Homo sapiens: one gene and its partners. The protein of the gene in region 1 interacts with the protein of each later gene in a biochemical or structural test. Each region holds a gene or a part of one and is shown on either strand. Other genes may lie near its edges.

Region 1 (7,930 bases):
GCAGTGAGCCAAGACTGTGCCACTGCGCTCCAGCCTGGGCAACAAAACACGACTCTGTCAAAAAAAAAAAAAAAAAGAACTTCCCAGTCACAGTACTTTAAGTGGATTATAGTTGTGCCAAAGATACTGATGCCCTCAGTTTTGGGGAACGATGCCTACAATTAGTACTAATTATTGCTACTAACACAGTACTAATATTATCTGGAATCACAAAGACTGAGAAGCATTGAATGCAAGACCAAAACATTGCTGGAACTTAGAGTTCCAGCAAGACAAGTTGGTTACCAAATAAATTTGTGTAAGGCCAATAGGCATTTAATAATCATTCACACTCATTGGTAATACAGAAAATAATGCAAGTTAAAACAAATAAAATTGGCTAAGATGTTTTTGGAGATGGTTTTACCCAGTCCTGGTAAGAGAACAGGAAACAAGTACCTTTTACATGATAGGGGGAATGCATCTGAGAGCGGTATGCTGCAAAGGCTTTACAAACAACTTTTGGTCCAAGAATTTTACCTATCTTTATTAAAAAGCAAAAAGACAAAGAATCTATAGGTCCAGCAATAAGTGACTGATTACATATATGACGATGTAGCAAAAAAGGCTGCAAATACAACACATTAAGTGAAAAACACAGGCTACAAAACTGTACGTACCTGAGGCTACAAACTGGCAAGGCAACGAAGACTGAATCCAGCCCTCAGGTATGCTTTGAACCCCAGTGTGTTAACAATAAAAAGTGTGGCCCACATAAAAATCAGAAGATTTCATATTAAACCCACATTCTCCTAAATAACTATAAGGTGTAGTAACACCAGGACGCATCCTCCCAGAACCACAAAGGTCTGGGTTGACTGGCCCTGGACCGTCCTGCCACCTTCAGTGCTCGTGGTCCCTAACAGGCCTTCAACTCTCCCGGGCTAAGTAGCTTCACACCAGGCACCTGCTGGGTAATTTGAGCATGTTGACCTTCACAGGGTATTAACAGTCATTATCACTGGATGGTAAGATCTTGGTAGGCTTTTAGTCTTCTTTCCTTATATATGTTTCCAAAAGTTTTCTTCAATAAACATGTATTCCTTTTGTAGTAGGAAAAAACATGTTATTTTTTAAATTACCAAATCACAACTGTAATATTAATCACTTCATCTACCAAGATCAAAACAACTAAAGATAACAGATAATGACTGTGGTTTAAAACTAATTGAACTAAGAATTAAAGTAAGGTTACGATTACTGCAGGATTTCCCTCCCTTTGATACTAATTAAAACTCCAGATTGGACAGACAACAGCAGCATTTTACAAAACAGATCTTCCTCAAAGAGAACAGCTTCTATAGACAATGCAAAAGCCTGCTATTTTAAGGATTCATTCCCATACATTTAAGATTTCTTTCACTAAAAAAAGGAAACAAAATCTCTCCTATAGAAACCTATATTCATAACCTCAATTAATTTGTTTATAAAGCTAAATAATTCTTGATCTTTGTCTTACACTGCTATTTCATTTGATCAATAGTAATAATTTTATGGGGTTCTCTTTTCCTCAGAGAAACTCCGGAAAGTTTACACAAATTACCATTCATCTCAAACCATTCCTGAGACCTCACAAAGTACACCACATTATCCTCATCACAAAGATAAAGCAGAAGGCTAGGTAGAAACGTCAACATCCATAGACAGCTGGAAGCCGAGTCAATGGAATGTTCCTCTCTATCCATCCTCCAATCCACTCCCACATGATACTCAGAAGGAGATTTTTAAACAAAAGCACATCATGGGACTCCCCTGCTTAAAACTTACATTAACTTCCTACTTCCCAGACATTCAGAGTCAAGTCCCAAGTGGGCCTCTCTCCTTCACTCCCCACCTGTCTCTCTTGCCCCCAGCACTTGCTCTGTACCAGCTCAGAGCCCTCGGGCCTCCAGGCTTGAAGGACCTCAAACACTCCTTGATTTAATAAACCAACAAATAACCCTTGCGTGTCTGCCAGGCAGCAGGCGCTGCTCTAGGGCCTGGGGCTAGCCCCCTGGACAACAGCGATACACTCCCTGCCCTCATGGAGCTAACATCCTGGTAACCCCGCTACCAAGTTTCTTCCTCCTGTAATCATTTAAAGAATATTAAAACAACAATTGTAATAACTGTATCTGAAGGGGTCTAAAAATAAGCAGTGCTACCTATAATACAGATCTATTCTCATTTAATGACTTTAATATTAGCTCTTTATATTAAGTGCAGGAAAGAGGAAAAATAAAGGCAAAGGGAACTACTATTCATTGAAATCTGCTATATACCAAGAATGGCACTCATTTTCTTGTCAATTTTTCAAGGTTTCTCTCATTACTAGCTATATAGCTTTCATTCATCAGTGGCCAAAATGCAATTCTCCAATTCTGCAAGACTGGGGCAGCTGAGTTTCAGATAACTTCAGAAATTGAAAGATAACTTGGTTTTAAAATCTACTATCTTAAGTTCAGAGCGGAAATGAATTGATTTTTGTGAAACACTGGATCCACAATGAACACTCCTATTATAGATAACACACTGGAATGATATATGTGTTTACACAACATTTTGTCTGTGTTAGAACAATAAAACCGGTCAGGAAATTTGCCTTGCAGAGAAGTAATTAACCCTGTACACACACACAGGCAAACAGACACACACACACAAAACGAATGGCTCCAATTCGTTGGAGCTCCAATTCCAATCTTGTTGCAGTGCTTTTATGGTAAGAGTCAGCGTCCTTCTTAACTAGGTTGGTTAAAGCCTGACACTAAAAGCCAGCTGACCTCGTCCACGTCCATGAACTGTATCCATGTCTTGCAAATGCATGCCACCAGACACCAGAACGATTTGCAGACATAATGCAAGGAGGAACACATCAAATGCTCACCAGTGCAACAGAGGAGCAAGAGCATTGTCCTCCTGTATTAAAAAGAGGATGTTTAATTTTAACCACCAAGGGTAAAATTCTGACCACTTGCTGTGTTGCTATGACCTTGTTATTTTCTTTCTTTCTTTTTTTTTTTTTTTTCTGAGACAGAGTCTCGCTCTGTCGCCAAGGCTGGAGTGTAATGGTGCGATGTCAGCTCACTGAAATCTCCACCTCCTGGGTTCAAGCAGGGAATTGAAGCAATTCTCCTGCTTCAGCCTCCCAAGTAGCTGGGATTACACTTGTGCGCCACCACGCCCGCCTAATTTTTGTATTTTTTAGTAGAGATGGGGTTTCACCATGTTGGCCAGGCTGGTCTCAAACTCCTGACCTCATGATCCGCACACCTCGGCCTCTCAAAGTGCTGGGATTACAGGTGTGAGCCACCACGCCCGGCCAGACATTGTTATTTTCACATTCGAATTCACTTGAATTCAAAATTCTGCCACAGCCCTCAGCTCAACTCCTGGCTCCACCACTCAATGAAGGGCCAAACGCACTACCACATGACTCCAGCAGACCCCATACCACACAAAAACAATGACAGGTTTTGGTGACCAACTGAAAACTGAGCTAGGCAGCCAAACTCAGTCCAGAGAGCTGAAGCCAAAACAATTTCACCAATGTTCTCTCTGGGCAGTAAGCTAATAAAGCAAGCTACCTATCATTAATTCTACTAGAAAAACACCGAAAGAGCAGTGATGCATTAAAATAGATTAACTTGCTTAAAATTCACTTTCTTAGAGAGCTACGAACTTTAGGAACAAAACTGGAGTGACATTCTACCATCCCATGTATTAATAAAAATGTTTTGGTTTACTTTTCAGTGATCTCCCAGTGGATGATATCTCTCTACACTGAGGCCTTCACATTCAGGAAGCAAACTTCCTTAGGCCACTTTCTATCTCCAAAGTGGCCAACATTCACATTCAGGAAGTAAACTTCCTTAGGCCACTTTCTATCTCCAAACTCGCCAACATGGAACTACCTGGACACACACACCCAGCTGTCTCCCTCATCACACTTCTGTACAGTCTTGCGTTTCTAAGACAAGTCCACATCACAAGTGAACTGCCTTTTCAAATTTCACTAGTCTTCTCTAGCACTCTAATCCTGTTTTTCATGCAGGGGTACTTTAGGAAAACCACTACAGAGTAAAGGATAACAAGACTACTTTAAGGATGAATGCTGGACAGTTGATGAGGCTAATTTTTCTCTCTCTCCTCTTTCTTTCTCCTTCCTTCTCTTTCTCTTTCTCTCCTTTCTTTTCTCTCTCTCTTGCCCTGCCCTCCCCTTTCTTTTTTGACAAGATCTCACTATGTTGCCCAGTCTGGAGTGCTGTGGCATCTGCAGCCTCCAACTTCTGGGTACAAACAGTCCTCCCACCTCAGCCTCCCTAGTAGCTAGGACTACAGGTGGGCATCACCTCACTGGGCTACTTTTTAAAAAATTTTTTGTAGGGTCTTGCTATGTTGCCCTGGCCAGTCTGGAACTCCTGGGCTCAAGTAATGCTCCCACCTTGGCCTCTCAAGTATTGGGATTACAGGAGTGACCCACAGCACCGGTCCCAAAGCTAATTTCTGAGCTAACTTATGTGACCAACTCTTCAGTGAAAGGGATTCAAATTTGTGCCCCACCCAGTTTATATATTAGTACATGTCAGAGAACCTCTTAGTTACTCCACAACAGCAATCGAGAACATAAAAAGTACCCAAATGCCTATAAAACATGTCTAGGAAACAGGCTAAGAGTTTTGGACTCTACAGTAAAAATCTGCTCAGACACTTGCTGGCTCTCTAATTGCTGGTACCCTAGTTTCCAAGGCATCTGTAAGATGAGAGTTTTTTGTGAAGTGAGTTAATGTATATAAGATGCTGCAAAAGAACTTAATCGACATTAGCTATCACTATTACCCATGCACAAGATTTCTGAGTTTCCATATCACACTACTAAACACATTATACTAACAGTCCATTCTTCTTCCTAAAAGCAAAAATTCACTAGGTTTGTCACTGGTTAAGTCATTCCATAAAATGGGGGAAGGTACAAGGGGCTGGGAGACTGGAAGTCTGATATACCATGGTAAGAGTATAAAATGATACAATCTTTCTAAATGACAAATTGGAAATACGGATTTAAAAAATCCTAAAATTTAGCATAGGCTTTGATCCTGCAAATTCCATTTGTAGAAATTTATCCTAATGAAAATAATCTCACAAGTACATTCAGAGACATATGTAGAAGGACAGTCACTGCAGGGTTATAAGTAACCGTGGAGGAAAAATAAACAAACTAATGTCTAATAAAAATAAATTGGCTAAACCACCAGAGATCCATGACTGGGTGTGGTGGCTCACGCCTGTGATCCCAGCACTTTGGGAGGCTGAGGCAGGTGGATCACCTGAGGTTAGGAGCATGAGACCAGCCTGGCCAACATGACGAAACCCCATCTCCACTAAAAATACAAACATTAGCCAGGCATGGTGGCAGGCATGTGTAATCCCAGTTAATCAGGAGGCTAAGGCAAGAGATTCATTTGAACCTGGGAAGCGTAGGTTGCAGTGAGCCAAGATTGAGCCACTATACACCAGCCTGGGTAACAGACTGAGACTCCGTCTGAAAAAATAAAAATTAAAAAAAAAACTACCATAGATCCATAAAACGGAATATTATTTGGTTACTAAAATTGTTATAATGCAATATATATATAGGAAAAGACACTCATGACAAGATGTTAAGCAAAAAAAAAGCAGGTTACAACCATATGTATAGCAAGATCCCATTTTTGTTACCAGAAATTGTATATGAATAGCCATATGCACACACACAAAAGGATTTGAAGAAATATGTATGCAGGTAGTAGACTTACGGGTATTTCATAGTTTTCTACTTTATACTTTTCTGTATTTCAATTTTTCTACCATAAAACAATTATCTTTTTAAATACAAAGAATATTAGTTGCTCATCATAAACTATATTTTAACCTAAAAGAGATCAGGAGATTTAGTATTTATTTTCAAAACTTATATTAATACATATTTGATAGCTTATTAAATACTTTCAATGTTTAGTCTAGTCATTCAATTAAAAAAATTATACATAGTACCAAGGAGTTAGCAATAAACTTTTTTTTTTCTTTTTTTTTTGAGACAGGGCCTTGCTCTGTCACCCAGGCTAGAGTGCAGTGGCACAATCATAGCTCACTGCAGCCTTGATCTCCTGGGTTCAAGTGATTCTCCCACCTCAGCCTCCGAAGTAGCTGGGACTATAGACGCACACCACCAAAGAAACTTCTTTTTTAAGCAACAGATTTCTACTTACTATCATAAAAGTCCAGTAGTACAATAATTAAATGGGTTAGCTTTTGAGTTTTAGGTATTTTTATACACCCCAATTCTTTATCATCACTGTAACTACCATTTATTAAGTGGATGTGTCTCAAAAACTTAGGTAAGCACTTAGAAGTATGTGAACTTTATTATTACTATTTCCATGTTCAGCTGAGAAATGAGGCATTGAGAGGTTAGATCAAACTCCCTGACTATGTGTGGTCAAACACAATATTCTCCAAAGTTTGAGCTCTTAACTACATAATATCTATGGTGCCCTGTGGTGAACTCTTGAAAAGAAGGTGTAAAGGTCAAATTTTATTAGTATGAAAAGTGAAATTGGAAAACATAACAATTTTCTCTATTTGCTAGAAACCAATTTTTATAGCAGTATGTTGGACTTATGGTTTATAAAATGATATTTTGATATAAGACAATATACCAAATATAAGTTTGATATATGATTTACCACTACACTGTGACTTAAATTTACATTTTGACTCTCTAAGCAAATGCTTTGTTCTGAATCTTCTTTCTGGCTAATCACCTTGAGCACACTACGCCTGGGAAAGGCTCTCTCCTTTCTAAACTAACCAAACTTACAGAAGTCACTGGGGTATAGTGCTTGTGGCTCCTAATTTATAAAATCAGTGACTACTAAAAAAAATTTTTTTGTAATATGCTGGGCTTTAATATGCCACTAACTGATAGATTAATTTGACAAGTAACTTTTAAAAGATTGGCCTCGCTGCAATGTAATTCACGTATTCACTCAACAAATGTTTAATTGAGTTCCTCCAGGCACTGTTTTAGGCCCTGGAGGTAGAGGGGTGAACCAAAGCCTCTGCCTTCTGAAAGGTGTACGACAGGTAAAATTACGCAATCACAGTCAATTGTTTTTTATTAGCAGCCTAAGGGATAAAACTTAATCTGCTACTTGAAAAACTTTCTATCCACTTCAGGAGCTAGTCTCAGGAGATGCTCAGAGAGAAGGAAGCCAGTGGTTTCCAACTTCCCTATGCAGGAGAAATTCCTGGAGAATGCATTAACAACACCAATTCCAGGGCCCCACCTCTAGCTGTCTGATTCTGAAGCGAGGTGACAGAAACCCGTATTTATTTTTATGTATTTATTTACTTACTTACTTTTTGGACACAGGCTCGCTCTCTCTGTCGCCCAGGCTAGAATGCAGTAGGGCAATCATGGCTCACTGCAGCCTCCATCTCCTGGGCTCAAGCGAACCAGATCCTCCCACCTCAGCCTCTAGAAAAGCTGGGAATATAGGCACGAGTCACTAAGCCCAGAATATTAAAAAAAATTTTTTTTTAGAGACCAGGTTTCCCTGTGTTGCCCAAGCTGGTCTCAAATTCCTGGGCCCAAGCTATTCCTACTTCAGCCTCCCAAAGTGTTGGGATTACAAGTTTGATCCACCATGCCCAAAACCTATATTTTTAACAAGTGCCTCCATTAATGCTGATGTAAGTGATCTGAGGCCCACACTTTAAGAAACCCAACCAGTTAAGTGGAGCCATTCAGGAGGAAGTGATCATTCAGAAGGGAACAGCTCTATGGCAGAAGAATTTGAGGTGCATAATATAATCCCAACTCTCGTGTCATCAATTCTCTACAACTCACAAATGTTAGCAAATTAAAAAGATA
Region 2 (8,057 bases), on another chromosome or scaffold:
CCTACTGCAACCTTGAACTCCTGGGCTCAAGCAATCCTCCTACCTTAGCCTTCCAAGTAGCTGGGACTACAGGCATATGCCACCACACTTGGCTAATTTTTTAAAATTTTTTGTAGAGACAAGGTCTACTGTGTTGCCCAGGCTGGTCTCCAATTCTTGGGCTCAATCCATTCCCCTGCCTCAGCCTCCCAAAGTGCTGGGATTACAGGAGTGAACCACCATGCCCAGCCTAAAATGACAACTATAAATTCTCGGAAGTTAATTATTTAGTTAATTCCTAGACCTTCCTAGCTCACTGAGCCTCCTCACAGCCCCAATTCCAAGCCAGGAAATAAAATAAAATGCAGTCTATTAACTATTTGTTTTCAATAGTGAAAGTGAAGGCAAAAACTAAAACATAAATTAGATTTGGAGGTCTCTCCAGAATTCAAATATTGAAGTTTATTCCCATCCCTCTTGTAACAAGAATACCCAAGAAGCACATAAAAATGTGTAGAAAGATATTCAGAGAAGTATTATTCATATTAGCCAAAAACATCAAACAAAGCTATGCTCAAAGCTCAATTAACAGAAAACGAAACATAACTTTTAATGTGAAGATGCAATTTGGAATTAAGTTAGCAACTTAAAAAACATTCATGCATCAAAAATATGCATAACATTTACAAGAGCATCAATTTTTAAATGCTCTTTAAAACATTTTATAAATTGCCATTGTAAAACCTAATGCCTAAAATTGACAGGCTAATCCTAAAATTCATCTGGAAATGCAAGGAACCCAGGGCAGTCAAAATAATCCTGAAAAAGAAGGAAAAAGCTAGAGGACTCATACTTCCTGATTCCAAATTTGCTATACAAAACAAATTTGTAATCCAAACAACAGCAATCCAAACTGTGTGTTACTGGCTGTCGTAAGGGAAGACAATGGAATAGAATTGAAAATACAGAAATGAATCCATACATTTCTGGTCGATTGATATTTGACAATGGTACCACAATTCAACGGGGAAAGATGAACCTTTTCAACAAATGGTACTGGGACAACTGGATACACAATTGCAAAAGAATGAAGTTATACCTTTCCCTTGCACCATACACAAAAATTAACTTCAAATGGATCATAGAACTAAACAGAAGAAGTAAAACTATAAAACCCTTACAAGAAAACAAGAAAAAAGGCGTAATTTTTGGGTTAGGCAAATAATTTTTGGGTTAGATGCAATAAAAGCACAAGTAATAGAAAAAAATAGATAAGATGGACTTCACCAAGACTTCACGAGAAATAAAAACTTATGAGTTACTTCAAAGAGCAGCATCAAGAAAATGAAAAGGCAGGCCACAGAATGGGAGAAAATGTTTGCACATTATGTATCAGATAAGGTGTGTATCCAGAATATTAAAAAAAAAAAAACTCTTACAACTCAATTATAAAAAAAGACAACCCAATTTTTAAATGGGCAATTAATCTAAATAGACATTTCTCCAAAGAAAATATAAAAATAGGCAATAAGCACATTAACTGTGATGTTAAGCATCAAAGAAACGCAAATCGAACCACAATAAAATATTAATACTACTTCACGTTCACTCACTATATTATAATAAAAAGGACAAATAAGTGTTCGTGAGCATGTGGAGAGGAACCCTCAGATATTGCTGGTGGGATTGTAAAATGCTACAACCACTTCAGAATAGTATGGCAGTTCCTCAAAATGTTAAACATAGAGCTACGATTTGACCCAGGAATCCCATTCCCAAAAGAAATGAAAACATATGTTCACACAAAAACTTGTACAAAAATGTTCATGCAGCATTATTCATAACCCAAAAGTGGGAACAACCAGATGTCCATCACTGATTGGATAAATATTAATAAAATGTGGAATGGAATATTATTTGACCATAAAAAGGAATTAGTAGTGATACATGCTACATCATGGATAAACTTTGAGAACATTATGCTAAGTGAAAGAAACTGGTCACCATGGCCCCATTTATAGGATATGTCCAGACTAGACAAATGCAGAGAGGCAGAAAATACATTAGTTGCCTAGGCCTGGGGCAGGGGGAAAATGGGGAGTGACTGCTAATGGGTCTAGGGATTCTTTCTGGGATAACGAAATTGTTGTAAAACTGATATGGTGATGTTTACACAACTCTATGAACATATGAAAAAACCTCTGAATTGTACTACACTTTAAATGAGTGTATTGGTACGGAAATGTGAACTCAATAAAGCTGTTTAAAAAACAAAACACCTAAGGTCTAGTATATACGTTCTTTGTGGAAAACAAGGTACATTCAAGACAAATAAATAACTATGAACTGATCTGATTACTAACCAAGACCATGCTTGAGGCACTTAGAATTAAGAATTTAACATACATTCCTTACTAGCTAAAAGATTACCCCTTTAAATATGTCTAAATCTCAACGAAAATGGACCTGCAGTACTTGCAACTGTCAGGGCATAAAATGGGATTCACGAAAGATACCTGAGTAAACACGTTCCTTTCCTGTACATGGCTGAACTGTACTTCCCATTACAAAAAAAAAAACAATAACTGCAGAAAAATACTCCACCGGGAGCCGGAGAAATTCTCAAAGAAGAATCTAATACTGAGCTAAGACAAGGGGTGGAAAGAATGAGGAAGGGGAAGGAGCACAGAGTAGGGGGAGGTCTCCATGCATTTAAGCCCAAGGAGTCCAGTTACATTAAATCCAACTTTTAAACGCTTTGTGAACAGGCCCAGAGGCAAAGTCCTGGGCGCAAACCCACGAGCCGAGCTGCGAGGCTGAGAGGAAGTGCTAGTCCAGCCCAACCCCGCACTGGATTTGGTGTGGAAACCGTCAGAGGTAAAAGGGATCGCTCAGATGGGGGGCCCGCGGTGAGGGCAGGAGGCAAAACCCCACCGCCCGGCGCTCCCAGCCAGCGCGCAGCGGGAGGCGGCTGTGCCGCGGGCCCGTCCTTCGCGTCCGAGCTGCCGCGCACGCCCCGCGCGGAGCGCGGCACCGGGAGCCTCCGGTGGGGCTGGGTCCCGTCTCCCGCCCCATCCGGCGCTTTGTCCCAGCCCCGGTGGCCGGCGGCCCCGCTGCGGGCCCCCGGGCCGCGGTGACAGCCCCCGTCCCCATAGGGCTGCGAGCCCGGGAGTCCCTATAGGCTGGCGACCGGTCGCCCGCCGGACCTCACCCAGGCGGGACGCGGCAGGAGGACGCTCGCCCTGCCGGAGGGGCCGCCGCCGCCGCCCGAAGCGCACGCAGGCCAAGCTCAGGCGCCAAAAGCCTTGGACTTCGAAACACACGACTTCCAACATCCTAAGCTTACCCAAAAATTCTCGACGAAATACGCCATGACCATCGTGCCGCCGCCGCGCCGGGTTCCGCGTCCGCGCCCGCCCGCCGCTGTGTAAACACGGCCCGGCCCCCACAGCACCCCCGCCTTTCGCCGCCGCCGCCTTCTTCCCAGAGACCGGCCCGCACCTTCCAGGGCGCATGCGCCACCTAGCGGCTGCCGCAGCTGGGCGAGCACTTAGACGCCACGGCCACGGTGTGCGCATGCGCCCTGTCCCCATTCTCGGGTGTTGGTAGATCTCTCTGCATCCCGGGCGCGGCTGGGTTGAGTGTTCTCTTAGGAATGGTGGAGAACTGGGTCCTTGAGGAGTCACCGGGGAGACTGCTCGCACTGTTTGTGGTGCGACGGGCACTGGCCCAGGGACAGAGGGAAGAGAAGGGCCAGCCAGCGGCAGTGGAGTCGGCAGGCTGGCTGCCCACTCGCTTTCTCTCCTCACAAGACTCGCTTCCCCGGCCTTCGAGGATCTCGAACGGACTATAGTCTGGACTCGCTGGGCTGGAGGAAACTTGGCCGCTGGCCACCCGGAGGAGACTGAGAAGCCTTTGGTCAACAGGGCGCCTTTCCTTGAACCAAAACAAAACTTTCCGAAGCCGGAAAGGAAACGCCCAGTGTCGCCTGAGAGCCCTGGAGCTGCGCGAGACCCAGGCACTGAGTGCGGCCTCGGCCTCTGACCTCTAACACGCCGGGAACAAACCAGCTGGGGCGGCCCGCAGGCCTGCGGGAGCGGAATGTGACCCGAAACCGACGGACTTCCTGACCCATAGTCCATAGTTCTCTTCAGCAACTTGAACATTTTGGAAAAAGAAACAAGTCTTAACATGCCACGACCTAATGGAAAAACTAAATCCCCTTCCTACACCTTGCTTTCCAAAAGTTAAAAAAAAATAGTTAAACGCTATTAGAGGTCTCAAGTTCACTGTCACCAGATCAGCTAGGTCCAGAATCTTCAGTTCTTGAAGCCAAGCCCTACAAATAGATTTATTGTAGCATATCACACCTCTTCAGGTGACTTAAAACAATGAGAATTCATGAGAAATTATCTTCATCCTCAAGTAAAAATCATGAGGTGCCTTTCACATGGATGAAATTGTAAGTGCTTGTTGAACAAGGAATAATTGGATAATGGTATTGTGGTCATACTTTTTAAGAATATCTGTTAGAAAGATATAGGATGCAGAACATCTAGGATTTGCTGAAAGTCATTTATTATGGATAGGGGTATGAGTAAGGTCATAGATGAAAAGGGATGAAACAAGATTGGCCATAGTTGCTCTATTTTTGTGTATCTTGTTTCTTTATTTTGTTTCTTTAAAAAGTCCTCATATCACTGACATTTACACTTAGTTTTAGGGAAAGTCAAATTTAGAAATAAGCTACAGCTCTCTAAGCTATCGGTCTAACTGGATTTTTCTCGATGCTGAAGAACTTTTTAAAAAATTCAGCCATCTAGGTCACACAGCAAATACATTTGGCATTAAATTCCTAGTATCACTAAAGTACTCCCTCCCACCGCCGCGCCCCCCCCCTTCCCCCCGCACCCTTAGACCTGGGCAAGAGAGACTTCTATCCTGGACTCCATGCTTTAAAGGAACTTACATATCACACACACACATTAATTTAAAAAAAAATAGGTGCCCCTGCCGCTTGTGATCTGATACTGAACACTGGCTCATAACCATAAATTCCCTCTCCCAGTGAAGAACACTATTCAGGCCCCAGGAAAACTCTTCTTCCTATCTTTTGTCTTCTGTCCTCAAAACAAACGGTGAACTCCAAAAGCAGTGAAAATTTGTACATAGCATGGCTGCCCATTTCAGAGACTGCTTTGGAGTCAGAATTTGAGCAGCAGAAATGCTTAGGTAAGAGAGAAGACAAATTAACTTGTCAAATCCTTCATCTCAGCTTGAATGCTATAGATTCCTGCATGACAAAGTATTGTTTCTCAGTAGTATCAAGCATACATTTTCCTTTTGTTAGTGTTCCAATGTGTGGCTATTACCTACAGACAATTTAGTATAGTATTCACAATAGTTACTGGCCTTCATTCGCATTCTTCTGCTCCCCTTAAATTTAGGAGTAGATCTGGAATGAAAATAAGTATTCTGAGTATTTCAGGTATTTGCAAGGTTCATTAGGGCCGAAACACCATATCCTGTAATTGCCTGATGTTTAAGTTGTGGAACTTTATAGTAAACAGTGATTAAGGTGACTAAATTTCAGACAAGACTGTGTAGTATAGGAAGAGCGTGGATGGTATCAGCCTCCTTCTGCACTCTCAAGTGAGGTTTCCAGGGATGAACATACATTCTGGCAGAGCATAGATAAGCTCCTGAGTGGGTAGTGCTGGGTGGGGTTACAGGCATGAGCCACCGAGCTTATATGCGTTAAAGTGTTTGTGCCACACTCTCTTAGACTTTGCTTATCAAAATGTATTTCATTTTGAAATTATTAAAAACCAACATAGATAACAACAGTGTACAAGTCACTGCCTATAATACCTGTCACTTAAGAGTCAGTAAATGTTCAGTGAATGAATGAATGATGACATCTATCATAGAAATGTCAAGGTAGATGAGACCTTGAATATGTAATAATTCCATTATCTTTTACACATTCTCTTTTTTTTTTTTTTTTTTGAGACAGAGTCTCGCTTGGTTGCCCAGACTGGAGTGCAGTGGTGCGATCTCAGCTCACTGCAACCTCCACCTCCCAGGTTCAAGCGATTCTCATGCCTCAGCCTCTCAAGCAGCTGGGACTACACATGCCCACCACCACGCCTGACTAATTTGTGTATTTTTAGTAGACACGGGGTTTCACCACGTTGGCCAGGCTGGTCTCGAACTCCTGACCTCAAGTGATCCGCCTGTGTGGGCCTCCCAAAGTGCTGGGGTTACAGGCATAAGCCACCGCGCCCAGCCTACTCATCCTCTTTAATTGGTGCTTGATCCTAGAGTTTGTAGAAAATATCATTATTTAAGTTTTTTATTTAATTTTCTCATGTTACTTTAAATATATTCAAAAGAATTCTTGTGGGCTTGAGTGTACTTCTTAAAGGATAGAGTACTTTTTTTTTTTTTTTTTTTTGAGACAGAGTCTTGCTCTGTCACCCAGGCTGGAGTGCAGTGGTGCAATCTTGACTCACTGCAACCTCCGCCTCCCAGGTTCAAGTGATTCTCCTGCGTCAGCCTCCAGAGTAACTGGAACTACAGGCATGCGCCACCACACCTGGCTAAGTTTTGTATTTTCAGTAGAGACGGGATTTCACCATGTTGGCTAGGCTGGTCTTGAACTCCTGACCTCAGGTGATCCACCCACCTCGGTCTCCCAAAGTGCTGGGATTACAGGCATGAGCCACCACACCTGGCCTTAGTGTACTTTGTGAAATAAAAATAAAATAAAATTTAAATAACATCCAAGATTTACTGTAGCAAGAGATTGCCTGTTGGAAAGGAGCCCCTACTCAATTTGGACTTTGATTTTTGGGTGTCACCGCTACCAGAATCATCTTTCTCTTAGGATCTCTCTCGATACCTGCTGAAGAGATATAGGCTTCCAGGGATGCTGTTGATCCCCATTAAACTCTGGCCTAAGCATATATGTTATAGCCCAAAGCTATAGACTTTTAAAACATAACTTGATAAATGATACCAAATAAGAGACACACAAAATAACCTAAGTCTAAATTATCTGGTTTACAAAATATGGTTTATTTCCAAGATTTGAGGGTTCAGTCTCTTAGGCAAGGCACCCAGAGCACTTCCCCCTTTCCATTCCTTAGTTTGATTTCCTCCCATTTCTCATCCTGGGTTCACAGCTCACAGCACATGAATCAACATTTAGTCATAAGGGCCATTTCCTCATAACTTCATTTGAAACTAGGTCCATGTCAGAAGGGTTGACTATAAAGAAAAATGCATTTTCTCATTTTTTTCAATATAATTTTGCAAATGTACTTCCACTTGTTTCCAAGATGGGAGTGGCAGAAGAGAAGATCCTATAAACCTCTTCTGTTTCCTGCCAATTTCTTCAAGGCGTGGCATCCATCCCCGGTCAGGTGCAGTATTCTTTCTCTGAACTCATGTTGTACTTGACAATAACAAGTGGCAAAAGAGCTAAGCTCTATTAAAAGGCAGAAAAGAAACAGGCAGATCCCTGAAGTCTGGTACGCTCTTGTTTTTCTGTACTCAGTAGCAGCATATTAAAAGCAAAAGCCTTATGCAAAACAGAAAGGAAAGCAAAAGCTTGGCAGATGGCAGCCAGGCAGGCTGCTATGTGAGGGCCGAGAGGTAGAAGCATGTTGATCGAACTGCAGAATAGAGCTCAACATCACCCTGCACGCTACTCATTTCAGAGCGGCTTACCAGGTGGATGTGCCTTTCTTCTCTCCTAAGTGCACCTGGGATTGACTCCCTGCCTGCTCCTCATGTGGTGCCATCTCTTCCTCCAGAATGAGATGTACTTTCCCGGGTGCTCCTTCATTTTGTCATTTGTGGAAGAAGCACAAACACCTGACCAGTTGTTCCAGGGTCTGCATTGCTAGTGACCACAGGGAACCCAACAATGCTTCAAAAATAAGAGAAATTACTAAATTACAGAAAGCCATGAAGATAATGATAATGTAGAAACACTCAGGGCTGGGCACAGTGGCTCACGCCTGTGATTCCAGCACTTTGGGAGGTCAGGGCAGGTGGATCACCTGAGGTCA
Region 3 (7,930 bases), on another chromosome or scaffold:
GATTCCATTATTGCTATTTGCCCCATTTTACCCATTTAAAAATAGTTTGGGATTCATTAACCCTGCCTGGCAAATGGATGCTCAATCCAGGCAGGAATATAAAAAAGCTTCTGTATTTATATTATTGGACTTGATATTTCCCTTTGTTAAAGGGCTTTCCTATTTTTTCATAAATTTTAGTGCTTGACTTTAAATAGAACAATTTCTAAAAATGATACACCTATATGCGTACATATTTTTAAAAGTCATATATGTGGCTAAAGTTAGAACAGAATCTCAAGATTAGATGTAATTTATAGGCACAAAAATAATTACAAATAAAGTTTTATGTAGATAATTCCTTTGTATATTAAGAATTGCTCTAATTTGCTTAAAGTGATACAATCGTCTGTGATTTCTTGAGAGCACAGACTTGGAAATTCTATTATTCTCTGCTTCCCAGACCAGACTACAGAGGTGGCTTGGGCTGGGAAGGAGGGTGAAGGTGTCTTCATGGCTATCTGGCAACTTAAATACAGCATCTCCCTCATTCTGTGCCTTTCTGATAGGCTACATCCACACTGGAATCTAGGGGATCATGGCCCAAGGAAACATCATAGCAACTAGGAAAGGATGTATCAGCATAAGGGATTTGTTCCTTTATCTTAAAATACTGTCACTTCTTACCTCTTCAACCAGTTGCAGCATACGACGGGTGCTTTCCAGCGACTAAGATTTAAAAAACAAACAAACATAAACTTTATGAGTGCAGGATCCAGAGATCTTGGAAAATCAGAAATACTTTATTTACTTGAGAAACACAAAGGGTCTCTGTCACATATTCTTTTCAGTTGGCAAGTGAAACAAAAAATGTCATTACATTTTCAAACTCTTTCCTATCAGGCTTTTTACATGATCAGATTCCCTAAAGCAATTACATTACAGCTTATCTTCAGAAAATAAAAACCATATGAAGCTGATCTTGATATCAAAGACAAAGTAATCTGGAGAAGATAATTTTGCATGCTCAGAATGCATGAAAAATTATCTCAATTACTCAGAGGACTAATTTGGCCTCCCTGGGCCAGGAACATTAAATTTTAAACACAAACATAATTTTTCATGAATCGAGATGAATATAACATCAAGTTTCTTACAAAGCTCCTAGAAACACAATTGGAAGTTCTTATCAATACAAATTAAGTTGTTGCCTTAGGGTGAAAAAAATCAAGCATGTTTGAAATGACCAGCCTATAGGAGAGAGCTATAATAATTATCTTCATCCTTAGATAAGAAAAAACGAGACGGAAAGGCTGAGCTCTGCAATGGTCCCCCGGGCACTGCGTTGTCACTTTTTTCTCAGTTCTTTTGAAACGACTAGAATCCAACAACCAGTGTGATTTCTCAAAGCTTTGCTTTTAACTGACAAACTTATTTTGAACAAGATTCTGCAGGAACCTGAAGGATGTTAACTTCCCTGGAAGAGCTGTCAGCCAGCTGCTTTTTGAAATAGAATGGCTGCAAGCAGCAGTCTGCTGGTAAAGGTTTAACTACCGGCTCTCTGGGAAAAATACACAAATACATACATGTATTCAAGTTTATTATTTTACTGATATAAAGGATGAATAGCACAAAATTTATAAATAATAATAAAATATACAATACTCTCTTTATTGTAAATTCCGCATAGCCAATTGATTCTCACAGAAAACTTTTACTGATTTTTGCTGAACTTTTGTGTCTACAGCTAACCATGTGATGAACCAGAGTAGTTCTGACATGAATGTTGGTTGGATATTTTCATGTATATTAATGAGTAAGAAGAAAATTAAACAATGAAGGCATGTGTTGGAATTGTACTCATTTGTGAATGACAAAAAGGATTTCTTTGCCTTAGAGAATCATAATTTTCAAATACTGGAAGATTTCCTCTTTTTGTGTTATTCATAGTATAATGGCTGCAGACATACATACTTTTAACTTTAATCTGCATTATTAATATTTTCTCTACTTTTTAAAGTCTAGACAATCAGCAAAACAATAAGTCAAGTCCTGATCTGCAGTATTTGCAGATTCTTGGGTGATAAATACTCTTACTCTGTCTGATTTTTAAATTTTTAAATATTTTTAGAGATGGGAGTCTCTCTATGTTGCTCAGGCTGGTCATGAACTCTTGGCCTATGCGATCCTCCTGCCTCAGCCTCCCAAGTAGCCGAGATCACAGGTGAGAGCCGCTGTACCCAGCTCTGCCTGATTTTAAGCTACAACTTCATATTACTGATCATGAAGTTGGAAAGACACATGGTAACACATTATTATACCTTATTTCCACCCTACAGATAAAATGGATGAATCTCAAGATCATGGATAATAGTAAAATGTAGCAAAATAATTAGGAAGTGATGAAGTTTGAGTGTTTATTACTTTTGATTTTAATAGAATCTATCTAATTGTCAGTTTATGTAATTCAGTTTTAATAATGGCTGCATTTAGCAACCAGCTTGCAAAGTTCCTGAAAATGTTAACAATCTGTTCTCGGAACTGAGCCTTCTCCAGCATAGCACTGAATTAAGGCACCCAAAGACATTGCTTTCTTTTCTTAGAGGACCTTGACTTCTCAAGGTTTCTGGAAATTGAGAGTTAGGGCCAAGACAGTAATTTGTATGCAGCTTCTATAATCAACTTATTCTGGTCCACAGAAGCCTTAGGTGTACAGAAAATCAAAGTCATATTACTTTTTCTAAAAGAAATTGAGACATTGAAAGAAAGGCTTTCCCTACCTGAACCTGAATAAGACAAACCACTCAGGCCTTCATCTTTTGCCTCCCTTCCTAGGTCTCCACTCCTTACCTCATCAGCCAACTGGTCAGCCCTTCGCTGCATCTCCTCCAGCTCATTGCGCATGTCTGCGTCTTCGGCCATGGTAGCGGTGGGGAGTGGCTGGGCGCCTGGGCTGGGGGGTCAGTGACGGGTTTGGCTCTGGACCTGGGAAGAAGTAGATATGAAAATATGAGAGCTTATATATGTTCATGTAGGTGTGTGCAAAGACCAGAAAATCTAAATGGCCCATACTCAGTCCACATGACTCAGTTTTCTGATCTGAAAGCCATACTCAGACAGGGGTCAACAGAATTGTGCTGTTTCTCCGAAGGATGCCACAAATACATACTTGCCAATTCTGCCATGGAGATAGACACCTATCTACCGATGAAATATTTTTAAAGAGACAAACTACCCAAGGGTTGGGAATGATGAGGTTGGAGGGATGTGGTTTGGGGTTAGTGTACTTTTATCATCACATTTATTTATTTATTTATTTATTTATTTATTTATTTATTTATTTAAATAGCTCTATTAAGGTATAACAGATATACAGTCCACCCCACATATTTGAAGTGTACAACTTGAGAAGTTTTGACATATGTATACACCCAGGAAACCATGACTGCAATCAAAACAATGAACATAGCCATTACTCCTCCAAATTTCCTACCCACCCACTGGCCCCTGCCCTATCCCACATGTCTATGCCCAGAAAACTGCTGATCTACTTTCTTTTTTTTATTTTTTTGAGACAGAGTCTCGCTCTGTCGCCCAGGCTGGAGTGCAGTGGCGTGATCTCAGCTCACTGCAAGCTCTGCCTCCCGGGTTCACGCCATTCTCCTGCCTCAGCCTCCCGAGTAGCTGGGACTACAGGTGCCTACCACCACACCTGGCTAATTTTTTGTATTTTTAGTAGAGACGGGGTTTCACTGTGTTGGCCAGGATGGTCTCGATCTCCTGACCTTGTGATCCGCCTGCCTTGGCCTCCCAAAGTGCTGGGATTACAGGCGTGAGCCACCGCACCCAGCCTGATCTACTTTCTGTCACTATACATTAGTTTGCATTTCCTATAATTTTATATAAATAAAAATCACATAGTGTGTACTACTTTTTGTCTGCCTTCTTTCACTTAGCATAATTATTTTGAGATTTATCTATGTTGCAGCATGTATTAATAGTTCATTCAATTTTTGTTGTTGAATAGTGTTCCATTGTGTTTAGAAGCATGTGGAAGCCAAAGGCAGAAAATCTTTCATCTATTTCAGTCATCATCAGAGGTTGCCAAAAGGGCTTGTGTGAGGGTGAGCTGCTATCACTCCAAAGAGGGTGGGTCCTTGGTCCTGAAAGGTGACCAGTCCATTTCTTGGCTACTCTCTTGAAATCCCACATGGTACAAATGACAGGTACAAGGACTGGGTCTATTCCGGAGAGAGCCCTCCTTCCTCCTTCCTTCTCAAATATTTATTGAGCACCTGTAATATGCCAGGCAGTGTTAGGCACTAGGGATACAGTGATGGACAAGATAGGCAAATTCCCTGCCTTTACAGAATTCAGTCTAATTGGGGAGATGCAAGCAAAAGAGGGAATTAGATGATTCAGGATGATGATAATTACACTAGGGGACATGTCTGGTATCATGGGTGCCCATGGGTTTGCAACAGGCCTTTCTGAGGAAGCCATGTCCCCAGGCCATCGAAGGGAAGGGGGCAAAGGGCCCGATGGGGTAGGTATCTGATAGAATGAAAAATTCTCTGTGAGTAGCACATTTGAAGAAGGCATGGGCTCTTGTCTTGTAGCGGAGATGGTCAACTGTGCACTTTAACCTCACTGTTGCATGGTAGAGCATGATCTCTGGGAAATGGCTGTGCAGCCAGGAATTACATTTCTAATTCCCATTGCAAGGAAGTGGTGCTCTGTGGCTAGAGACAGTCCATGAGTGGTAGTAGAACAAAGTGTGTCCCTGTCAGTCTAAGGCAGTTCAGAAGCAGGTATTCTCCTCCCTCTGTTTCTCCTTCTGCCAGAAATACAGTCTTAAAGGATGGTTAAGCCATGAGACCATGAGACAGAAGGAACTTGGGCCCTCCATATCCCTGCATGGAGAAAAATGACTCCTGGCCAGTAACACCTGAACTCTTACGTGAGCAAACAATATATTTCTATTATGCTATGGAAAATGTGAGGGTTGTTTTGTTATAGCAGCCTGTGTTACACTAACTAGTAAATGTCTGAAGAAACTTAAAATGAAACAGAAACATTGCATATGAGCATGATTTCCTAACCAAAAAACATATTTTTGTTTGTCTTTCTATTGAAAACCGAAGCTGGGAGAGGAAATTAGATTTGGGGCCTTGGGGCACTACCATGTTTATTATTATTATTATTTGCATGAGAATGAGAATCACTTTTCGGAAAAATAAAAATGAAAATTCTGTATGAAAAAAAAAATCAGGAACATACTCATTGGGAGGCAAGGGAACAAAAGTTCCCAGAGGCAGGTCCTAGATCTGATCCTGGGGGAGGAGGCTCTGCCATCTCACCCTCCAGGTCCACGATTCTATTGCTTTCTCAACAAGGATGGAATTTTAGTACATATTAATATCACTTTCCAAATTTATTGCTCTTGTGAAAAAGGAGAAATCATACTCTTTAGGGTTCTTAGAAGGAATCCTAAAGTGAAACTTCTTTGGAGATAACAGGTTTCACCGTTCTCTACCCAGTGATTGCCGGGCAAAGCAACAAATATGGAATCTGAGTAAAAAAAGAAATAACAAAACTTCAGGGTTGCCTTATTCTACCACTGGCATTAAACAAATAATGGAGTAAGTTTATGTGAGGTTAGCTTTATGGGCAGTCATTTTATAACTGACAGAGCATCTTACGATGAGCCTGCTAATTTTCGAATGCGTGTTCTGGCCACTAGAACATGTGCTCGTGAGATGATGTAGAGATGTGAACACTGTGTTTTATTTAAATACATGAGACTTTATTTCCATGTCTCCATTTTACAAATTAGGATCTAGAAAACAGACACTGGAAGGAATTTACACCAAGTCACTCCAGAATCTTAAGATGCACAAAAATGAAATTTTAGTATTCCCAAGTGACCGGGGATCTACCCTCCAGAATAAAGCAGTGGACCCGTGGGGAAGTTGAGTAGACTATGGACCATAGTTCAGTGGAGTGGGTGGATAAAGGCATTGATGTCAGAAAGACCCAGCTGGACCGCTGGCTCTGGCGCTCAGAAGCTGGGTGAGTCTGGGTAAGTTCATCACCATCTCTGAGCTTTAGTTTTCTCAACAGGACAAACAATGCCAATCTCATGGGGTTGTTGAGGGGAATAAATTACAGAAAAGTTCTGGCCAACATTTTTTGTAAAAAAGGATGTGGAGCTTAATATTCAGAAAGCCTCACTAATTCAGGACAGCCCTACACCCTTGGCTAAGAGTGGAACAAACCCGGTATTTGTTAATCAGCTTTCCTCTACTAACGGCTAGGCACAAGACATGTTGCTGTGGTGCTGAGCACCCATGGAAGCTTGAAACCAGGGAAACCAGCAGAGTGCCTGAGCCTCCAGTCTCCAAGCAGCACCTCTCACAGGAGTACCACGAGGAGACAAACAAGAGTGCCTTCTGGCCCCACGCTCCATCTTTATATTTTGCTGCTGGGTTCCTGGGGGGGAAATGTGTATCTTCGGCCTAAGCAAGCCATTGACCTTTCCTTTTCACAGGCCAGTTTATTAGAAGGCAGGGGTCCATGTGCTTTCAGACTTGTAGTGCTATTGCTCTGTCCCACTCCTTCAGGTCTATTTGCTGATGAATGTTTCTGTGCATGCTCTCTCTCTTCTCTCTCTCTCTCTCGCTCTCCCTCTCTCTCACACATACTCAAGTTTCCTGTGTTTCCTTGGCAATCTCCTCTCAAAGTTGTTATTCTCAGCATGTGAAGAACAGCTGTAGGGCGCCCTGGCTCCAAGCTGACAGCAGCCTATCCAGGCCTGGCTGATGGGCAGCTGGTGCGATGGCGGAGAAGCCATGTGGCAGATACCCTTGGTTTCATCACTTTCACGGTTCCCCCAGGAACTCCCACACCTTTGTCCTGCTCTAAAACATGGAGATACGTCTGTGATTTGGGAGGAGGGCTGATGAATCTGGTGGATCTCAAACACACAGCATTTCAAAGCTGAAAAAGCAATTCCCCCTCTCCTAATAAGAACGGCTGGAGAGTGGGCGCTGAGCGTACCTCCAGATCTTCTGTTGGGATGTTTACTGCTAGTGTTTAATAAATTGTTCCTATAAACCCCAAACTCATGCATGTTAGCATTCTAAAAGACAGCAGCTGAAGAGGCATAAGGATGTTTATTAATAGTAATTTCAGTAGCTGAAAGGACGTTAGTAGTGAAGTGGCATTTATGATCAAGGCAGCCTGCAATACATCCCTCATATTAGCACAATAAACTGCCATCTTGTGTGTTGCAGAGCAGGTAGAAAGAGGAAACTAGGAAGCAGAAGAAATTAGGAAGAAAAGCCACTCAAAACTATTCCCCGAGGCTCTGATTGTAAGACAAACTCCCAGTCTATTAAGAGCCTAACAGTATCTAATTAATTATCTCAAATCACCAGTGCTTATTAGCAAAGGGTCTGACCCCTAGTAAGGGTTCAATTCATGTTAACTGACATGGATGAACTGTTCTGACACTCCCATGTAGCATTCAGTGTTCCCAAATCAGCACTTTACAAGGTGTGGTCCAGGACAGAGCTTCTGAAACTTCCCCCAGAGTCAGAATATGCAGAAACCTTGTTAAAATGGATTGCTGGGCCCTACCCTCAGGGATTCTAATTCAGTTGGTCTGAAATGGGGTCACTGATTCTGCATTTCTTTCTTTCTTTTTTTTTTTTGAGACAGAGTTTCACTCTGTCACCTTGGCTGGAGTGCAGTGGTGCCATCTCAGCTCACTGCAACCTCTGCCTCCTGGTTCAAGTAATTCTGCTGCCTCAGCCTCCCAAGCAGCTGGGATTACAGGTGCATGCCACCACGCCCAGCTAATTTTTTGTATTTTTAGTAGAGATAGGGTTTCACCATGTTGGCCAGGCTGGTCTCGAACTCCTCACCTCAAGAGATCCACCTGCCTTGG
Region 4 (7,930 bases), on another chromosome or scaffold:
AGAATTCTGAAGATCCTGAGCATGATAATTTGGTTGTATATGCCGGACTCCTGAGGCATTACATGCTTTTAAATCGCATTCTAGTATCAAGTGACATTTAAAAAGAGCAAGATAGTTTTGTCAAAGCCAGTCATTTTGTTCAAAAAAACTCTCTTCCTCCTTGCATGTGTGTTAACTGAGAAATACCCAAGTCTGGTAGTTCTACCAATCTGGTATATTCCAGAATACTTAAGATCCAGTGCTGGAGTTATAGCATCATTGAGTTACAAGCCACAGTTCTTCCTGTCTTTTTGGCCATGTTTCTCCCTATAGGAGAGCCTTGAAACTTAAGATTTGTTGTGGTACAGTTTGTTTTCTCCCAATATCTTATACATAGGAATGAAGTTGCCTGCTTATAAATTCCTTTAGGGAATCTTTATCATTTTCTTTGCAATCCAACAATCTACTTCTACTTCACTTGGATGGCCAAGGAAAATAATTCTGGAATGTCTAGCGTCTTGAAGGTATAACACGTAACTGAGTTAATCTGTGCTGACCTGATGTAGTAGTGCTAGTAGTACACTTCCATTACACCACCATACTGGATGCCAGCCATAGCTGGCATCTGAGAAACTGTTGAAGGATCCTAACATCAGCAATGAGGAGGACTCAGCAAACATGCAATGCGACATCCAGCTCAATCTTTGTACAGTACTGCATCCCCTTCTAAGAGAAGACGGCAGTAAGCACATAGGATTTGGAACCATAGATTGTTTGTAGCCTCAGTTTTTACCTATGTAAAATGGAGATACCTATTAGGGTTGCTGTGAAGAGCAAGTAAAAGACTTGGGAGCACTTACTTAGTACAAAAGTAAGCATATGGTAAGAATTTAAAGGAGATTTTAAGTGCTTTGGCAGCCATCTAAAGACTATGCAGGCTCCCAAATATTTGTTTCCATGTCCTAGGAGGTAGTCAAAAGAACTGAGGCAGAAACATTCCATTTATGTTTCTAGGGTTTAAACCATGCAGTCTTTTAAGCCTTCTTAAGTATGCAAGATGCTATCACTCCTTAAATATCAGACTTAGATCTCTTCAGACAGGTGTAGTGGAGAACACTTCGGTCACCATCTAACACATTACATTCATCATAGATAAAGGTACCTGTGACTTTCACCGGTAAAGTCACTTACCGGTGCCTGTGTGTGACAGTAAATACAGCCCTAGCATTGATGTGATATTCAGTAGTGACATCTGCCCTGCACATATTAGATGCCAGACACTGTGCTGAGCTTTTTGTGTGCATCTCACTTAAATCTTACCTTGTCACAGTGAGACAGTCCCCATCGTCTCTACTTTACAGAGGGAGTTAGTAACTTGCCCAAGGTACCACACACAAGACACGGAAGTCTATGCTGTTAACTACATTGCCTGCTGCTTCTAAACAGAACCACCTTGTCACCCATCTGACTTTTTCCTTGAGCGCAGTGAAGAAAAAAGCCATTTTTGATATGCCATGAGGTAACCTGCGGAGCACAAACTCCCCACCCGCAGCTGGTCTCACTCCTGTCTCAGTGTTTTTGCATTGAGATTTTTACAGTGAGATTTACAGGAGAACACTGGGTCATGGTCCTACTTTGTTCTTTTTCTCATTAGCCAGGCTCAAAAACGTGAAACGGACTCAGGAGACATGATAGAGAGATGGAACACCACTGTTATCAGTTTGTTAGTAGCTTATTTATCTATGGATCCCTAAGTTTCATATCTAGAGCCTCACTGGTAAAATGCATTCAGCTTTCCTGTGTGAAGGTAGATGTGAAAGGGATATGCAAAGATGGCTGATAATCCTTCACATGCAACTGTTTCGGCTAAAAATCCTCCAGGCTGGATTAGAGAGAAATAAGTTCGAAAAACGCCATTGTTCCCTCTTCAGATTCATTCCCTCCATATTTGGAAATAAGTACCTTTGAAGATTTTTGTACTTTTATATATTTCTGAACTCTCATAGTTTAGGCCCATGATATGGCTGAAGCATGGATGTACAATTTTTAGTTTTCCCAAGAAAAATCATACTTGTTAGGATATTTACTCGAGTAGTTTTTTAGTATTACAATTCTAGAAGAGAAGTCATTATAAGCCCCTTCTGGCCTTAGAGACTATATAATACCAAAAATACCTAAAAACCTTTTCTTTAAGAGAGTGAAATCGCTTGATGTGCCCTCCCACTCCGGTTAGATGCTTAACAGACGACAGCAGACAATGCACCTCAACCAGGGCTAAGTGTGCACACTTGGCCAGCAGCCGCCAACAGAACGGGCAGCAGCAGCAGTTAGCACTGACGCAACTATCGCTGCTATTGCCACTACCATCTCCCCACTAACAGGGCTTGCAGAATATGTAATACCCAGGGGATTATATATATGTGGTTTTTAGGCACCGCCTCATCACCCACAATAAGGGAAGCTTCTTTCTACTCTTTAGCTAGTTGCTGCTCCTACTTGTTAGGAGTTTGATGTATCAGACCCTTTTGAGAAATGTCTATGTCACAACTACGTTCAGGATAAAACAATTATGAAACTGAAGGGCTCAGATTTGGGGATCAAGATTAGCAGGTTGTATTCATAGTACTTCAACTTAAATTAGCAAAAGTATATCTGCTTTTTGCAAGTTTTTGCCACCATTGAAAGCAAACAGTATAGCTTTCATTTGGATTCAAAATAATAAATTGTTTTACTTGGGTAAGATTTCACTAGTAAGAATTCTAGGAAATTATTCCAGTTAGATTACGTAATAGAGATAAGTGACCCCTAGAATCTTTAGGTTTGGGGTAAAGATTGTTAAAAGGTAGACTTTAAGTTGGTCTACCATTTCTACAGTGTTCTTAACTGAAGAGTTAGTCTTTTAATACCCTGTAGTTTGCTATTTAAAGCTTGGCTTCTCATTTTTGAGAAGGGCTACTTGACTTCCACAGATACAAGGAACAGAAGCAAATGCCAAAGTGAAAGCCTCAATTTTTTTTTTTTTTTTTTTTTTTTTTTTGCCTTGTATTCATCAAGAACTAAAGAGGCAGCGATACCTAGGCTTTAAAACACCTACTAGAATGTTTTAAGGGAGCTAGTTGAACAACTGGGACTATTTTTTTGCCAAATAGATTAGCTTGCAAAGGGCACTTAAAAATTTGGACAGAGGAACTTGGCTGGATTTCTTTACCAGAGGCCACAAATCTGTTTATTCATCTATCATCAATCTTTGTGGCAATTCCTAAAATTTCTGGAGGGTCCACTTTCACTTTGTGTGACAGGCTCATCTAACTCCAAATATTCTCCTTTAGTGTATGATAAGCTTCATATTTTACCTCTTAATTATCTTCTACATTGAACTCTAGAGACAGAGCAAACTTATCCTAACACATTTCACATAGAATTCAAGTTATTTTTTGGGTGATAAAGCCGAGGCCTGTTATCATTCATGCACTATTATTGCAAGCTGTATTGACTAGTAGTTTAGTCATATAACTATTTTTTTCTTTTATTTTTATAAATTTTTTTTTTGTAGAGACAGGGTCTCACCATGTTGCTCAGGCTGGTCTCGAACTCCTGGCCTCAAGTGATCCTCCTGCCTTGGCCTTCCAAAGTGCTGGGATTATAGGCGTGAGCCACCATGCCTGGCCCACCAATATATCTATTCTTATTTCAATAGGAATATCTAGTTACTTTGTTTCTACAAATGAGTTTGTACCTCGTAGGTACAATGAGTTGTACCTTGGCTTCTTACTGGGGAGGACGTGGTAAAAAAAAATGAGACGTTTTAGACTCTTTGAGGGTTGGAAATTTTACCCAGAACATGAAAGAACATACTAGGGACAGGAATTCAAAAGATGATGATAGAGAATAATACTTTATTTGCCAAAACAAACTTTGGGCCTTATAATTAATTAATACTGTATAATCCTTATAATGGGGAAAGCAATAGTATCAAACTTCAAGCTTCTAAAGGGAATTTGGTATTACTCCAGTTAAAAAAAAAAAAATCCATGTTTTTTGTACCACAGCAGGGTCAGAGCAGCAGCCAAACTCTGAAATGGCTTTCAGAGTTCATGATGAATGCTAACCTACTTACCAAACAGGCACTTCAGCTACTCACTGTCAGCAGGCCACATCCTGTTCAGTGTGATGACTAAATGTAGAGTGAGGAAAAGGTGGAGAGCAGACAGTTCTATATTCATGACTACAGCCTTTTCCTTCTACATGCTTGACCTCCAAACCTCCCATGAAAAAAAAGTCCAAGGCTATCTTTTCTTTTTCATTCAGTTGACCAAAATCACAAGGGGGCATCCCTTAAGACAACAGAACCAACTTCCCCTTCATCTAGTAGGATTAATGTCCTTGCTTAAGCCACAAACAAGATGTTAACTGCCTTATATTTCATATGCAAGTGAAATATGAGTCATCCACTGATTCACGTAGCAACGCAAAACATCTTCTCTTCATCCTCTTGGTACTGTGTTGGTCGGTCATTTAATTCCAGAGGAATTGCTGTACCTTCCACAGCCAACTCTCCACCTCACTTGTGACACACAGCATGCACCCGGTGCTTCAAGTCTTTTGTCTTTCCTTGCTTCCAGACATCCTGAGACTTTAGAGAAAGAAAGTAATGGCCAACCTGATGGAAAATTCACTAAACTCCCTGTACAATTTTTTCTTTGTCTCAAACTCCTCATCTGCTCTTCATACTGTAAGTTCCAGAAATTGTCCATAGTAAGAATCTGCCCCATCCCAGCCAGGATAAAAATTTAGGTGATATTGCAATTATATTCTTCATGAAGTCACAGTAAAACGGTGGTTTTTAAGCTTTAGTTTACATCAGTATCGCCTGAAGGGCTTATGAAAGCAGGTTTCAGCCCTCGCCCCCAGAGTTTCTGATTCAGTAGGTCTGGGATGGGGCTGGGAACTTGCATTTCTAATACATTCCCAGGTGATGCAGATGCTTCTGTTCTCAGGACCACACTGAGAAACCTGCCTTAGACTGTTCAAGAATGCCATTGCTTGCTATCCTCCCTGGCCATCTTCACAGTAAGACAGTCTAGACTTTCATAAGAAGAAAGCCCTTATCCATGCCTTAGAAGGCACTTGTCCTTGACCTATATAAATGACAGAACATGGAAAACAGAGACTTAACTATAAAGAAGCAGAATTCATAGAAATCTTAGCACGTGTTTCTCGATCAGGAAACAAGTTAATGGAAAAAAAAGAAACTCACTCCTCTAACCAAGAGGAATTCTAGGTACAGACTAAGCTAGCTTCTTTTACACAGTAAGAAATATTTCGGGAGCAAATGTTAAACAGTACTTCATTTTTTAACTGTGCTAGGGTGTAAGAGAAACCAGCCCAATTACAGGCTTAGTTATACAACATCAAGAACTACAGCTCACACATTTAGTTAGAACACTTGGTACTACTCAGGATAGGAGTTCATCCTAGAGGAACAGGCACAAACCATGGTTAAGCTGCTTGGTTTAATTTTTTAGCACTTGAAAAAAAATGTACAGTAGTTTGAACACTCAGTCTTTGCAAACCTCCATTGAGGTCAAAGATATCATTCATACGTACAAAATTAGTTTATAAATTTTTTTGGCAATTTCATCTTAGTAACCCGTTTTGTCCTATTGCCATTGTCCCAACCATTGAAAAAGTTTACAATAATTTACATAGAAATATTTTCAAAGTGCTTAAGAATAGTGATTGTTCTCTGGGATATTTACAGATGGCCTATACAATGTATGTACAGGTGGTATACACTATAGCACAAGTTTCACTGCTGGAATATGGCTTTCTAGGGAAAGTGCATATTTGGCCAGAGGTGGCAATACTGTCTAGAAATTCAAGGGTTACAGATACTCGGTAACCACATCCAAAGCTGAAGTAGAATGTGGACAAGAATATTTACAAAAGTAATATAAAAACGGTCAAGTACACAAGCTTGATCCACGCAAAGGTATCTTGATGTTCTTCCAGCCGAGAGGAAGAAAAAGAGACTTCAGCTGCTGGCTCGGTTACCATTCCGACGGGGGTATTATTTGTTTAGACCTCAAAGGTCAACATTTGTCACAGAAGTCAAGCTAGATCATCATCTGTGCTTACAACTGATATCTGTGGAAAAGAAGAAGTATAGAATGAGCTTGGTGATCACTCACTGATGGCAACTCTAGTCTTTAAAATGGACCTTGCTTTTGAGTTGGTCATTCAAACACTCAGAGTGCTTAGAAGAAAAGTCAGTCAGATACAAAAGAATACTGAGTTGTATCATTCATGCATTTAACTTGAATTCAACTATACCTGCTTGGTAGTGAGATAAGATAGTGTGACTAATTCTGTCTTTTCTACTTAATGATCATAAGTCTTGGGGAAAAATGTGAAAAGCCATGTGTGTGTCAAGAATTGACCACTGTTCCATGTTTCACCGGAGTTTGAGAGGGGAGTGATCAATACTTGTTTTGTTCAGCCTGTTTCCTACGTGAAGGCCAAATACTCCACTTGGGTTTCATCTGAAGAACAAGTGAGTGACTATTGCTGGAAGAAAAGCTAGCTATACTAAGGGCGGTGGGATACCTTTTTAAAGCAAAGCATATAATAATTTTGGCTAAGTGAATCTTACTCAATACACTGACTTTAAGCCAACTCCCCTATATATGATATGCTAATTTACTTTCAAATATCCAGTAGGCAATGGATTTAATAGTTCAGTAATGAGCTACTTGGTTCATGCTAGTATTTACATGTCATTTCTATAACCAAAAATATCTTAATATAGTGGTGACTTTAAGTTGACCCACTTGTCAGTTGGTGAGGGTTAGATGCTGATCAACTGAGTGACTTATGTTCTAACAGGCTATACTGTCTGTCTAATAGCCAGGTAGCAGATGAAGTGTTTGGTAACTCCATCATCCTAATGGCTCTCTCTCTCTCACCCAGGTCTCCTTTCTGAAAAGTCTCACTTCAAGCCATGGTGTATAAAGACACAAAGCTGACTTACTGCTGGGTACGTGTGTCCAACAGAAGCACTGTGTCTACCAATGTCTATGGAGAGGTCCTCTTCAGTGGTTTTCAAGTACACAGGATTGTCAAAGTTCATGCTTTTCATGTTCTTGTGTTGCCAATTCCGCCACATCAAGTAGCCACCTACTGCTGCCATCACTAAGAGCACTGAAAAAAATCAGAGGGTAGCTAAGTGAGCTAAGTCTAGTATTGGAACATACAAGAAAGGTAATAACGTTCAGGAATCCATAATAATTGACATTAGTAAAAATGCCATGTTTTATGGAGCTAGGATAACTAGAAGTTGGAATACACATGGGCCAGGAGCTTGAAACAAGTTCAGCCCAGAGGTAGCTCTGTGCACTGGAGCTGGACTAGCCACATCCATCCAGGCAAGGGCAGGGTCCTCGGTCCCACCTTAGGCTCACCAAATTAAAATTGCAGAAGGTTCTGGAGAGCTATTCAGGTGGTCCTGGCGTGTTAGCTAAGCTTGGGTCTCTTCATTTAGGACAAAGGTTTTTATAGCAAAGTCCTTAGAATTTGCGTGTCTCGTTTAGAGGTCCTTTTCCATAGGTTTGAAAATTCTTAACTGCTTTTAATTTATCCTCAACAAGTCCTGTAACTCTTAGCATTTAAGCATTTGTGCATCTCCTCTGTATGAAGCATTACACACATTTCAAAGGGGGAACAGAACAGTACACTAGTTAAAGAGACTTATTATAAAAGGGGATAAGCCAGGTTAACAGTGCGGAAGTAGAAAGCATTAACCGTTGAACACTTATCATTGCCAGTTACTGTGCCAAAGGTACAACTGAAGAGAAAGATATGGGCCTTAATTTAGTGTATTATGTGGGGGAGAAAGCGAACGTAATTCAGTGTCATAAATGCTAGACAGCATAAAGGCCCATGAAAGGGGTAG

The links.
Region 2: the proteins of ITSN1 (region 1) and FCHO2 form a complex in vitro, tested with the Homo sapiens proteins (one study listed by BioGRID).
Region 3: the proteins of ITSN1 (region 1) and SNAP25 form a complex in vitro, tested with the Homo sapiens proteins (one study listed by BioGRID).
Region 4: the proteins of ITSN1 (region 1) and VLDLR form a complex in vitro, tested with the Homo sapiens proteins (one study listed by BioGRID).

The regions. Positions count from the first base shown.
Region 1 is NC_000021.9:33,645,144-33,653,073, reverse strand, and holds part of ITSN1 (intersectin-1), read right to left. Parts: intron 1-7,930. UniProt on the Homo sapiens protein: Adapter protein that provides a link between the endocytic membrane traffic and the actin assembly machinery. Acts as a guanine nucleotide exchange factor (GEF) for CDC42, and thereby stimulates actin nucleation mediated by WASL and the ARP2/3 complex.
Region 2 is NC_000005.10:72,951,398-72,959,454, reverse strand, and holds the start of FCHO2 (F-BAR domain only protein 2), read right to left. Parts: upstream 3,415-8,057; 5' UTR 3,359-3,414; coding exon 3,326-3,358; intron 1-3,325. UniProt on the Homo sapiens protein: Functions in an early step of clathrin-mediated endocytosis. Has both a membrane binding/bending activity and the ability to recruit proteins essential to the formation of functional clathrin-coated pits.
Region 3 is NC_000020.11:10,270,463-10,278,392, reverse strand, and holds part of SNAP25 (synaptosomal-associated protein 25), read right to left. Parts: intron 2,965-7,930; 5' UTR 2,902-2,964; coding exon 2,830-2,901; intron 709-2,829; coding exon 667-708; intron 1-666.
Region 4 is NC_000009.12:2,652,029-2,659,958, reverse strand, and holds part of VLDLR (very low-density lipoprotein receptor isoform a precursor), read right to left. Parts: exon of another isoform or gene 7,180-7,930; coding exon 7,010-7,179; exon of another isoform or gene 6,949-7,009; intron 6,127-6,948; coding exon 6,091-6,126; 3' UTR 1-6,090. UniProt on the Homo sapiens protein: Multifunctional cell surface receptor that binds VLDL and transports it into cells by endocytosis and therefore plays an important role in energy metabolism.